3 linked regions of the Homo sapiens genome follow. The protein of the gene in region 2 purifies or fractionates together with the protein of the main gene of each other region. This does not show direct contact. Each region holds a gene or a part of one and is shown on either strand. Other genes may lie near its edges. The genes, in order: UTP18, WDR43 and APLF.

Region 1 (3,667 bases), on a different chromosome or scaffold from region 2:
TCATTTTTCACTTCTTCCTCTTCCATCATCATTAACATTTTGGTATCTAAATCGCTAACCTTGCCTATTAGGTAGTCTAATACCTGTTGATAGATGTTGGAAGAGTTACACTAGTGAGTGGTGTTTTGTTTTGCTTCAGATTTTTGCTTCAATAATTTATCTGAGTGGAACTTAGAAGCTTTTTCTAAAAGTTCAACTCAAACCAACAGCTTGTGATTTTTTTCCTGTAAACCTAAAGGTACTGTCTATTAATGACTAACTGATGCAGTTTTCTTTTGTATATGTGAATGTATACAAGAAATATTCTTAGGCCGGGCATGGTGGCTCACACCTGTAATCCCAGCAGTTTGGGAGGCCAAGGCAGGTGGATCACCTGAGGTCAAGAGTTCGAGACCAGCCTGGCCAACATGGTGAAACCCTGTCTCTACTAAAAATACAAAAATTAACTACGCATGGTGGCACAAACCTGTAATCCCAGCTACTCGGGAGGCTGAGGCAGGAAAATCACTTGAACCCGGGAGAAGGAGGTTGCAGTGTGCTGAGATGGCGCAGTTACACTCCAGCCTGGGCGACAAGAGAAAAACTGCATCTCAAAAAAAAAAAAAGGAAAAAAGAAAAGAAATATTCTTAGTCCAGTTTTCCAGAACTAGGAGGGTTATAATAGGTCTGTATTTGTAGTCTCCTGTACTGTTAAGAGGGACTGAGAGTGGCCAGTTTACTTGCCTTTCAAGTTTAAAGCAAAATTAACAACTCTTTTTTTCGCTCTTTTATGCAGGGGATGGAGAAGTTTATGTTTGGGATGTGAACTCAAGGAAGTGCCTTAACAGATTTGTTGATGAAGGCAGTTTATATGGATTAAGCATTGCCACATCTAGGAATGGACAGTATGTTGCTTGTGGGTAAGTAAAGAGAGGTTCTTGTAACCTTAATCACATTGTGCTAATGAGAATATGTTGAGGAATTGAATATACTAGGTGGTGCATGAGTAGTTCTCTTTATAAACTATTCAGTAATATGAAATTGGTCAACCCAGCTGAGCTTTTTTCATTTTATCATCTTTGTGCAGTGTTGAATAATAATATTACAGTAGTTCCCCCCTTATCTGCAGTTTCACTGTTTGTGGTTTTAGTTACCTGTGGTTAATCACAATCTGAAATCTATGTAAGATATTTTGAGAGCAAGAGACCACATTCACGTAACTTTTATTAGGATATATTGTTACAATTGTTCTGTTTTATTATTAGTTGTGTTAGTCTGTTACTATGCCTAATTTATAAATTAAACTTTTTTATAGAGATGTGTGTATAGGAGAAAACACAGTACACACAGGGTTCAGTAATCCACAGTTTGAGGCATCCACTGGGGGTCTTGGAACATACGCCCTGCCAGATAAGAAGGGATTACTATAATTGCAGTTGAACACCTTTTTAGCAAAGAAAATGCTGGCGCTACCTTATATCATTGTATTTTTTCCTATTTAAAATACCTGTTTGATCACATCAAGTTTTCCTATAATTATTTTCAGCTTCTTGTCATTGATGAGGAGATAGAATAAGTAACTTTGGGTTTAAATCTTAAAGATACCTAAAGCATTTTTCCTTTATCCAGCTGGGGGTATAAATAAAAAACATGTTCCTAGGAAATACCATTTGATAGTATTGTAGAAACTTTAAAAATATTATCTAGAACACATTGTACTGTGCTATTACTGAAAACATTGGTTATTACACTGGGGAAAAGATGGCTGTGTTCTACTACTTGATTCTGAAGATGCAGGGTGAGAGGATGAGGCATTGGATACTTCGCAGTAATTCTAAGCTACCTTACTAAACCACTAATTAGAACCCATAATTCTGTAACTTCAAGAAGTAGGTTTTTGTGATTTTCTTAGACCAAACACAATTGAGCCATGAAATGATTTCAGTCAAATCCTCCCTGGGATGGGAAGTCAAGGGGTCTTGTTGTCCAGAAACTTAGCATACTCTCTACTCTTTGTTCACTCTCTCCTTCCAGGTTAAAACTGGGGAAACTGCTTGTATATATATCCCTACCACCGTTTGCAAATTGGAGTTTGGGAGGAAAGGCAAGTAGAACTAGGCTGTGGAGCTTGGAGACCAGGCCATCTGCCTTAGGCAGTAAGACAGTAACAGATCCCTTGGAGGGAGAGTGCCCTGATGAAGGCCCCTTCCTTTCCTACCCATACCCGTGCCAACCCTGTAGCGAGGGACATCTCAGCACAAGCCAAGCATTTACCAGGGTAGTGTGCGCTATGGCAGCAATTCATGAGTAGCAGATCTTCTGGGAATAAAGCTCCTTTAAAATGAAGACTGCTGTTTAAACTCATTATAAGTAGTTTTTAAATTTTTTTTATTATACTTTTAAGTTTTAGGGTACATGTGCATAACGTGCAGGTTTGTTACATATGTATACATGTGCCATGTTGGTGTGCTGCACCCATTAACTCATCATTTAGCATTAAGTATATCTCCTAATGCTATCCCTCCCCCTTCCCCCCCCGACCCACAGGCCCCGGTATGTGATGTTCCCCTTCCTGTGTCCATTATAAGTAGTTTTAAGAACTGCATTTGCCTCTATATGGGGCAAGAAAAACTGCGCAGAAATGATCTTCACTCAGATTTGTGAAGCCAGTCTTCATTGCCCTCTCTTTTTTGTATCACTTTTTATTAGCCCCCTTTGAAGGGCCTATATAGGAAAGAATCTAATACTAGTAGCTTAAACTCATTTAATTTTAATTGCCCTTCAGTGTAATTGATTTCTGATGTGCTTGGCCAACAACCATTTAAGCTTTTAGAATCTTCAAGTTATTCTTAAAGAATCTTAAGCAAATCTTTAAGCTTTTAGAAGAGGAAGAAAGGACAGGGAGATGAGCCTTGAGGTCACTGCAGCAATAGGCAGGCATCAGGTAATGAGTCACCAGGACAGTAGGAATGGCAGTGGGGGAATAAGCAAAGGATGTTTGTAATGTATTTGATAAGTGCTTAGAAGATGGGGAGTGGGAGAGAAGTATTCACATTCTCAGGCTCCAGGCCTGTGCAACCAGAGGAGTGGAATTGTCATTGAAGGGAGGCGGGAGGAGGGGTGATGGTGTTAGAAGAGATAATATGCATGTGGCCACCCCCACAAACCTTTAGGAATGCAGTGCATAATTAGGACTAAAGGCACTGATTTGGATGTGGTGGGTGATAGGTGGTCTGTGGGAGTAAATGAGATGAATGAGACACTAGAAGTAGGTTGGAAATAGAATCCTGGGGACAAGAATCAGTGGAGAAAGAGGTGACTGTGAAGGAATCAGGATGCAAGAAGAGTCAGTAAAGTTTAGCCTTCAAGAAGTCAACAGAAGGGGGAGAATTTGAATTCTGTTTTCAACCTGTTTGGTTGGAGGTTCTATAGGACATCTGTGGCTATAGTGGTGATAGCTGGTCTCTTTGTAACATGATTCCTGTAAATACCAGTTTGTGGGGTTAAATCTATATTCACTTAGGTTGTGAAAGCCCTTTTACTTGGTTTTTAATCTATTTTAATCCTTTTCTCTTTGTAGTTCTAATTGTGGAGTGGTAAATATATACAATCAAGATTCTTGTCTCCAAGAAACAAACCCAAAGCCAATAAAAGCTATAATGAACTTGGTTACAGGTGTTACTTCTCT
Region 2 (3,667 bases):
TGGATTTCTCAGAACTTTATGCTAAAAACATATAGGCTGGTGAGCCGTAATTTAAAAAAACACGGAAGAGAAGTTCTGAAATCATAATAAATACTCAGCATTATAAACTGATGTAGTGCTTTTAAGTTAGGGTCATTGTCTTTTTGTTGGGAAGACATGAGCTGTTAACATCACTTTTGAAATGAAAGAAGTCTTGTGGCATTTGCCACTTGAGTGAGACTTTTGTCTCTGAAGTCACTGAATCACTGAGCCAGCCCTTGACCAGTCAGTGGGGCAACTTCTCTCTTGTGTGCTCTGAGCTGCTCTACTAGTTAAAGCTATTTGTTGACTCAAATTGAAGTTAATGCACGTTTATAAAGGTAAAAACTTTTGAGGCTCTTTTCTTGACAACTAAGCTAGAATTTGTGGAAAAATTAGGAGAGATAAAGGAGAGTTGGCTGCTTAGATATGGACTTACGGATTCATAGATTTTTGGGTATGAATCTCTTTGGTTGGGGAGTGAAGGCTTCGCTTAGGTTGGACCTGTCAGGAGGGGCGGCCTGTTTCTGAGAAGTGGAAACAGCATTGAGGCTTCTTGGACCTGTTAGGAGAGTACCAAGAACATACTAGGTTTTCCTATTTGCTGCCTTTTTTCCATAGGGGTGGGAGACGGGGGACATAGAATTACGAGTTTCTCTTCCCATTGGAGGGATTTCTTTTTGAAGTAGTGAGAAGTAAATCACCCAATAGCTTCTCTCTTCCCCCCTTTTAAAATGTCTTTTGTGGGCTGGTGGGCATTTGTATTTGTTCATTAACGATGTTTTAGTATTTGCAATACTAAATAAAAACATTGTTTTTCTTTTTTTCCAGGAAAGTCCCCAGAGGAAAAAAAGGAAATCAGAAGCTGTAGGAATGAGTAACCAGACTGACTTATTGGCTCTTGGCACAGCAGTTGGTAGCATTTTATTATACAGCACAGTAAAAGGAGAGTTACACAGTAAATTAATAGTAAGTGTGTGTATATTTTATTTAAAAGTGATGTGACAGGGAAGCTGATTATTAGAGATTATTAAAAAAAAAACACTTCAAGGTATGTGATGGGATCTGTGCAGTAGGGACAGTTTTCAGTCTCATCTACGTTTAAATAACTGAATAGTAATATTTGATAAAAGCTATAATAGTTAACAGCAGTCCTTATTATGGGTCAGAGTATGAAGACTTATTGACTAGGTTTAAAATAAGGAAGGGTTACAGGAACTCTAAGGAATCATAGATAGCAGCTGTGGAAAGCAGCTCCCCACCTCTTGACCTAGGGGAATAAAGGAGGCAGTTGAAATTACTGCTAACACTGAGATCTTTTAGGGGCAAGTGTTGTGCTGCTGTTGCTGTCTCTTGAAGAGTGGCCCCATGGGCATGGGATCGAGACTTCAAACTGAGAAGGAGGCTCCAGCTGCCTGGTGCTAGTGTCTCTGATGGAGATGATGAGATTGGTTCTCCTAGGGTTGGATAAATTGGATATTGGGTTCAGCTGCTGCTGTTGGGCATTACCACTGTTGGGGTGATGCAAATAAAGAGACAGGAAGGAACAAGTCCCTTCTCTCTCCATCCTTGTCTCCCTCTAGCAGTTGCTATTGGTAGAACCTATGGATCGAGCTGGGAAATCAGAAATCAGGTTGCTGAGTCCCAGCATCACAGCAGAATATAAAGGATGGTTTGGCATTGGAAGACAGTAACCGAACTGGTCTAGTAGGTTCAGACAATATCTATTGCAGTGTGTTTTTGTTCGCTGGACTTCTGTATATAGGAGTGTTTTAAGTTTTTTGTTTTAAATAACATTTGTCTATAGGAAATTTGTAACTACATAAAGTTGAAAAGGAAAAAAATTTATACCTAAGTCTGTCGCCGAGAGGTCCTCTTAATAATTTGTATATTTCTTTGCTTTATACATACATTAAAAAAATATAGTTGGCTTTCTGTTCATCTAGTTTGTATCCTGATTTTTTTCATTAGATTACAACATAACTATCTTATATTTGTCAATAACTGGTTATAGAGATTTTTAGTGACTGCTTAAAATCCCAACAAGTGGGATAGTCCATTATGTTACTTAACTTGTTGACCATTTAGGGGTTTCCAGATTTTTAAATTGTTGTAAAACAATTTCTTTTTCTTACATGGATTCACAGAATTACTAACCTAAAATTAGTGAGCCAAAGGGTTGCTATATATGTAGTATAAAAATACTTTCTGGAATAATTTTTACTAATTTATGCTTAATATCAGTGATAGGAGATAAGTACTTTATCTCAGCAGTATCATTACCACTACTGAATAGCCCAACAAAACAGCAACAACGACAACAAAGAAACAGCTAATTTGGTAGAGGAATATTTTAATCTGATTTTAAGTTTGCATTTAGGAATGTATTACTTGTTTTTATATTAAGATTACAAAAATAATACTCAACTATAAATGAATTTTAAAGCATTCAGAGATCCATCTCAAGAAAGCATTCTTCCCTATATTCTTCCCCCCTCCTCCAAGTCGAGTGTGGTCCTCAGGTGAGCTCTTACACCTACTATAGGTAGGAGCCTATCCTTTAATTGGATAGGTTTTTTGTGTTCAGCAGGTACCTAGCATCTTGTGCAGTGTGATAGCTGCTCAGCTGCTGTGGCTGCTGGAGCCTAGAAGACTTATTTTTTTTTAAAGACAGAGTCTCACTCTGTCGCCCAGGCTAGAGTGCAGTAGTGCGGTCTCAGCTCACTGCAACCTCTGCCTCCTGGGTTCAAGTGATTTTCGTGCCTCAGCCTCCTGAGTAGCTGGGATTACAGACGTGCACCACCATAGCTGGCTCATTTTTGTATTTTTAGTAGAGATGGGGTTTTGTCATGTTGGCCATGCTGGTGTCGAACTCCTGGCCTCGTGTGATCTGCCTGCTTGGCCTCCTAAAGTGCTGGGGTTACAGGCATGAGCCACCATACCCAGCCTAGAACTCCTTTTTATATCATTTCACAACCTTACAAGATTGTAAATACATCTTCGACAGGGATGAATTTATCAAAAAGGAGTCAAGAGGGTCAGGGTGAGGGGTACTGGGATGGTATGGTAAGGTGGAAAAGGACCAGGCTTTGGAGCTAGTCTGTCCTGAGGTTGAATCCTACTAGTTGTATGATCATGTGTGAATAATTTAACTTCTCATCCCTTAAATGGGTATTAACAGCCTACCTTGCATGATTTTATTAAGACTTAAATGTAATAATGTATTGAAAGTGCCTGGCTTGTAAGTGGTATTTAGTAAATATTTGTTGAATGAGTAAGTGAACAAGTGAGTGAACACATCGCTAAATTGCTTTCCAAAAGGGTATGCTAGTTTACACTGCTGCTGGCAATAGTATTATGTAACCTCACCAGCATGGGCATCATAAGGCTAAACACATTGCTACAGGAACAGACTAAAAATGCCACTTTGTTTTGGTTTGTATTTCTTTGATTACTAACAAGGTTGAATATTTTGGTATATTTTCTAACTGAATTCTTTCTGTGGAATGTATCTGTTCATATCCTTTAGTTACTTGCGTGTATATAAGACTTAGTTCTTGGAGTACACAGCTGATAGGAAGGAAGGAAAGTAACTGAATGTAACATTTTAAAATATTTTTCTTTTGAAGTGGTAACAATGTTATTTCCA
Region 3 (3,667 bases), about 40 Mb from region 2:
ATAAAGAAACTAATATATATATATATACATATATTTATATATATTACTTCATGTGTAATTTTTTTTTGTCAATAACATCTCTGTATGTGTTGATCCTCAATTTGCAGGAAGGAAATGGGGAATCGTAGTGGGGAGGGGCAGACACTTTCCCTCAGTAGAATAATTTCTCTGATAAAAGAAAGACTTAACTTGACCAAAAATTGAACCAATGTGAACTGGTCCCTGCAAATAACTCCTTTTCTTTCAGAATTGTTTTGTACTGCAACTGCTTCTTTGCTACTGCTTATAATAGTTCAACATGTATTTCATTTCAAATACATTTTCTTTCACTTGGTAGATGTACCACTTAAAATATGAATCATGTTTTTGGGCACTTCACTTTGAAAATACAAATGAGAGTAATTTGACATTTTATATATACAATATACATATAATATATTATATTATATATAAATGATATATAATATATAATATATTATGTAATAAATATAGATAATATATATTTATATATTATAAATATATAGTCACATTGGTCCAATTTTTGGTCAAGTCTTTATATATATATAAAATGTCAAATTATATGTTTTATATATTATATATTATATTATTATATATTAATTATATATTATATTATTATTATATATTAATTATATATTATATTATTATATATTAATCATATATTATATATTATTATATATTAATAATATATTATCAGATATTGTATATTAATAGCATATTATTATGTATTATTAATAATATTATATAATATATTAATATTAATGATATATTATTATTTTATTATATATTAATGATATAATATTAATATTTTATTACATATTAATGACATAATATTAGTATTTTATTACATATTAATGATATATTACTAATATTTTATTATATGATAGATTATTAATATTTTATTATATAATGATATATTATTAATATTTTATTATATATTAATGATATATTCATGATATATTAATGATATATTATTGTATATTCATGATATATTAATGATATATATTCATGATATATTGATTTATTATATATTCATGATATATTAATGATATATTATTATATATTCATGATATATTAATGATATATTATATATTCATGATATATTATTGATATATTATATATTCATGATACATTATTGATATATTATTATATATTAATATATAATATAATAATATATTAACATTATTATATATTATTAATGTTATTATGTATTATTAATATGTTATATAATATATAATATATTATTATATATTATATAATAAATTATTATATAATATATAATATATTGTTATATATTAATAATATAATACAGTCATATATTAATATATTGCTATATTAATATATAATTATTTATTAATATATTATATATTATTAAATAATATATAATATATTAATATATTAATATTATATACTGATATATTATCTATTCATAATATATTAACATTATATATTAATGATCTATTATATATTAACGATATATTATTATATATTAGTAATATATATTGATAATATATTATATTACTATTATACATTAATAATATATTATTATATATTAATATATATTAATATTGTATATGATATATTATATATTAATATATATTAATATTATATACTAATGATATATTATATATTAATGATATATTACTGTTATATATTATTATATATTAGTGATATATTACTGTTATATATTAACACATATTAGTGATATATTACTGTTATATATTAACACATATTAGTGATATATTACGGTTATATATTAACACATATTAGTGATATAATACTGCTATATATTAACACATATTAGTGATATATTACTGCTATATATTAACACATATTAGTGATATATTACTGCTATATATTAACACATATTAGTGATATATTACTGTTATATATTAACATTATATTAGTGATATATTACTGTTATATATTAACAGTAGATATTAGTGATATATTAGTTATATATTAACATATATTAGTGATATATTATTGTTACATGTTAATAACATATTAGTGATATATTATTGTTACGTTAATAACATATATTAGTGATATATTGTTACATGTTAATAACATTAGTGATATACTGTTACATGTTAATTACATATATTAGTGATATATTGTTATATGTTATTAACATATATTGACATATGTTAATAACATATATTGATATATTAATATATAGTGATAACATATTGATATATTAATATATAGTAATAACATTGATATATTAATATATAGTAATAACATATATAGATATATTAATATATAGTAATATATAGATATATTAATATATAGTAATAACATATATTACTATATGAATATATTATATAGTAATGATATATTAATATATTATATAGTAATGACATATATTAATATATTATATAGTAATGACATATATTAATATATTATATAGTAATGACATATATTAATATATTATATAGTAATGACATATATTAATATATTTATATATATCAATAACATATATTAATATATTATGTATCAATAACATTATTATATATTGATATATTATATATCAATAACATATATTAATATGTTATAGATCAATAACGTATTATTATATATTAGTATATTATATATTAATAACATATTATATATTAACATGTTATATATTAATAACATGTTATTATATATTATATATTAATATATTATTATATATTATATATTAACATATATTATTATATATAATTATATTATATTATATTATTATATATTATATTATATATATTATATTATATATTATATATAATGTTATATAGGATATATAATATATTATTATATTATATATAACATTATATATAATTATATATATTATATATATAAAACGTGATGCCTCCAGATTTGTTCTCTCTATATATATACAAATACACCATGGAATACTACTCAGCCATAAAAAGGAATGAAATAATGGCACTCGCAGCAACCTGGATGTAATTGGAGAGCATTATTCTAAGTAAAGTAACTCAGGAATGAAAAACCAAACATTGTATTTTCTCATTTATAAGTGGGAGCTAAGGTATAAGGATGCAAAGGCATGAGAATGATGCCACAGACTTTGAGGGCTTGGGAGGAAGGGTCGGGGAGTGAGGGATAAAAGATTACAAACTGGGTACAGTGTACACTGCTCGGGTAATGGGTGCACCAAAATCTCAGAAATCATCACTAAATAACTTATCCATGTAACCAAACACCACCTGTTTCACAAAAACCTGTTGAAATAAAAAATATATATATAATAGTGATGATAATAATAATAATAAACTGTATTGGCTGAAAAATGAAAAAGCCTGACAACAGCAAAAATTCCCCTACATATAAAGGATTAAAGAGTTAAACTGAGAGATGATCCAGGAGAGATCGCAAGGGCAGATCAAAAAAGGCAAACAAAAACCAAACATATAAAGAGTAAATTTAGGCAGCTATACAGTGATATGCCTTAGTACATGGGCTTTAAAGTTAGTCAGAGCTAGGTCTCAGTTACAGCTCTGGCATTTATTATATGATCTTGGATAAGTCAAATAACATGAATTCATGTTATTTGTCCTGTTCCTAAGGATTCCAAAGGTTCCAAAATATCAAGTTAGTTTCAGATAATCTACATAAAGACCAATAACCACAGTTATGGTCCTAA

What was found.
Region 1: the proteins of WDR43 (region 2) and UTP18 purify together in Homo sapiens (affinity purification with mass spectrometry; one large-scale study listed by BioGRID and IntAct). This does not show direct contact.
Region 3: the proteins of WDR43 (region 2) and APLF purify together in Homo sapiens (co-immunoprecipitation; one large-scale study listed by IntAct). This does not show direct contact.

The regions. Positions count from the first base shown.
Region 1 is NC_000017.11:51,284,470-51,288,136, forward strand, and holds part of UTP18 (U3 small nucleolar RNA-associated protein 18 homolog), read left to right. Parts: intron 1-775; coding exon 776-899; intron 900-2,013; coding exon of another isoform or gene 2,014-2,290; exon of another isoform or gene 2,291-2,345; intron 2,346-3,559; coding exon 3,560-3,667. UniProt on the Homo sapiens protein: Part of the small subunit (SSU) processome, first precursor of the small eukaryotic ribosomal subunit.
Region 2 is NC_000002.12:28,901,138-28,904,804, forward strand, and holds part of WDR43 (WD repeat-containing protein 43), read left to right. Parts: intron 1-849; coding exon 850-987; intron 988-3,667. UniProt on the Homo sapiens protein: Ribosome biogenesis factor that coordinates hyperactive transcription and ribogenesis. Part of the small subunit (SSU) processome, first precursor of the small eukaryotic ribosomal subunit.
Region 3 is NC_000002.12:68,516,039-68,519,705, reverse strand, and holds part of APLF (aprataxin and PNK-like factor), read right to left. Parts: intron 1-3,667. UniProt on the Homo sapiens protein: Histone chaperone involved in single-strand and double-strand DNA break repair.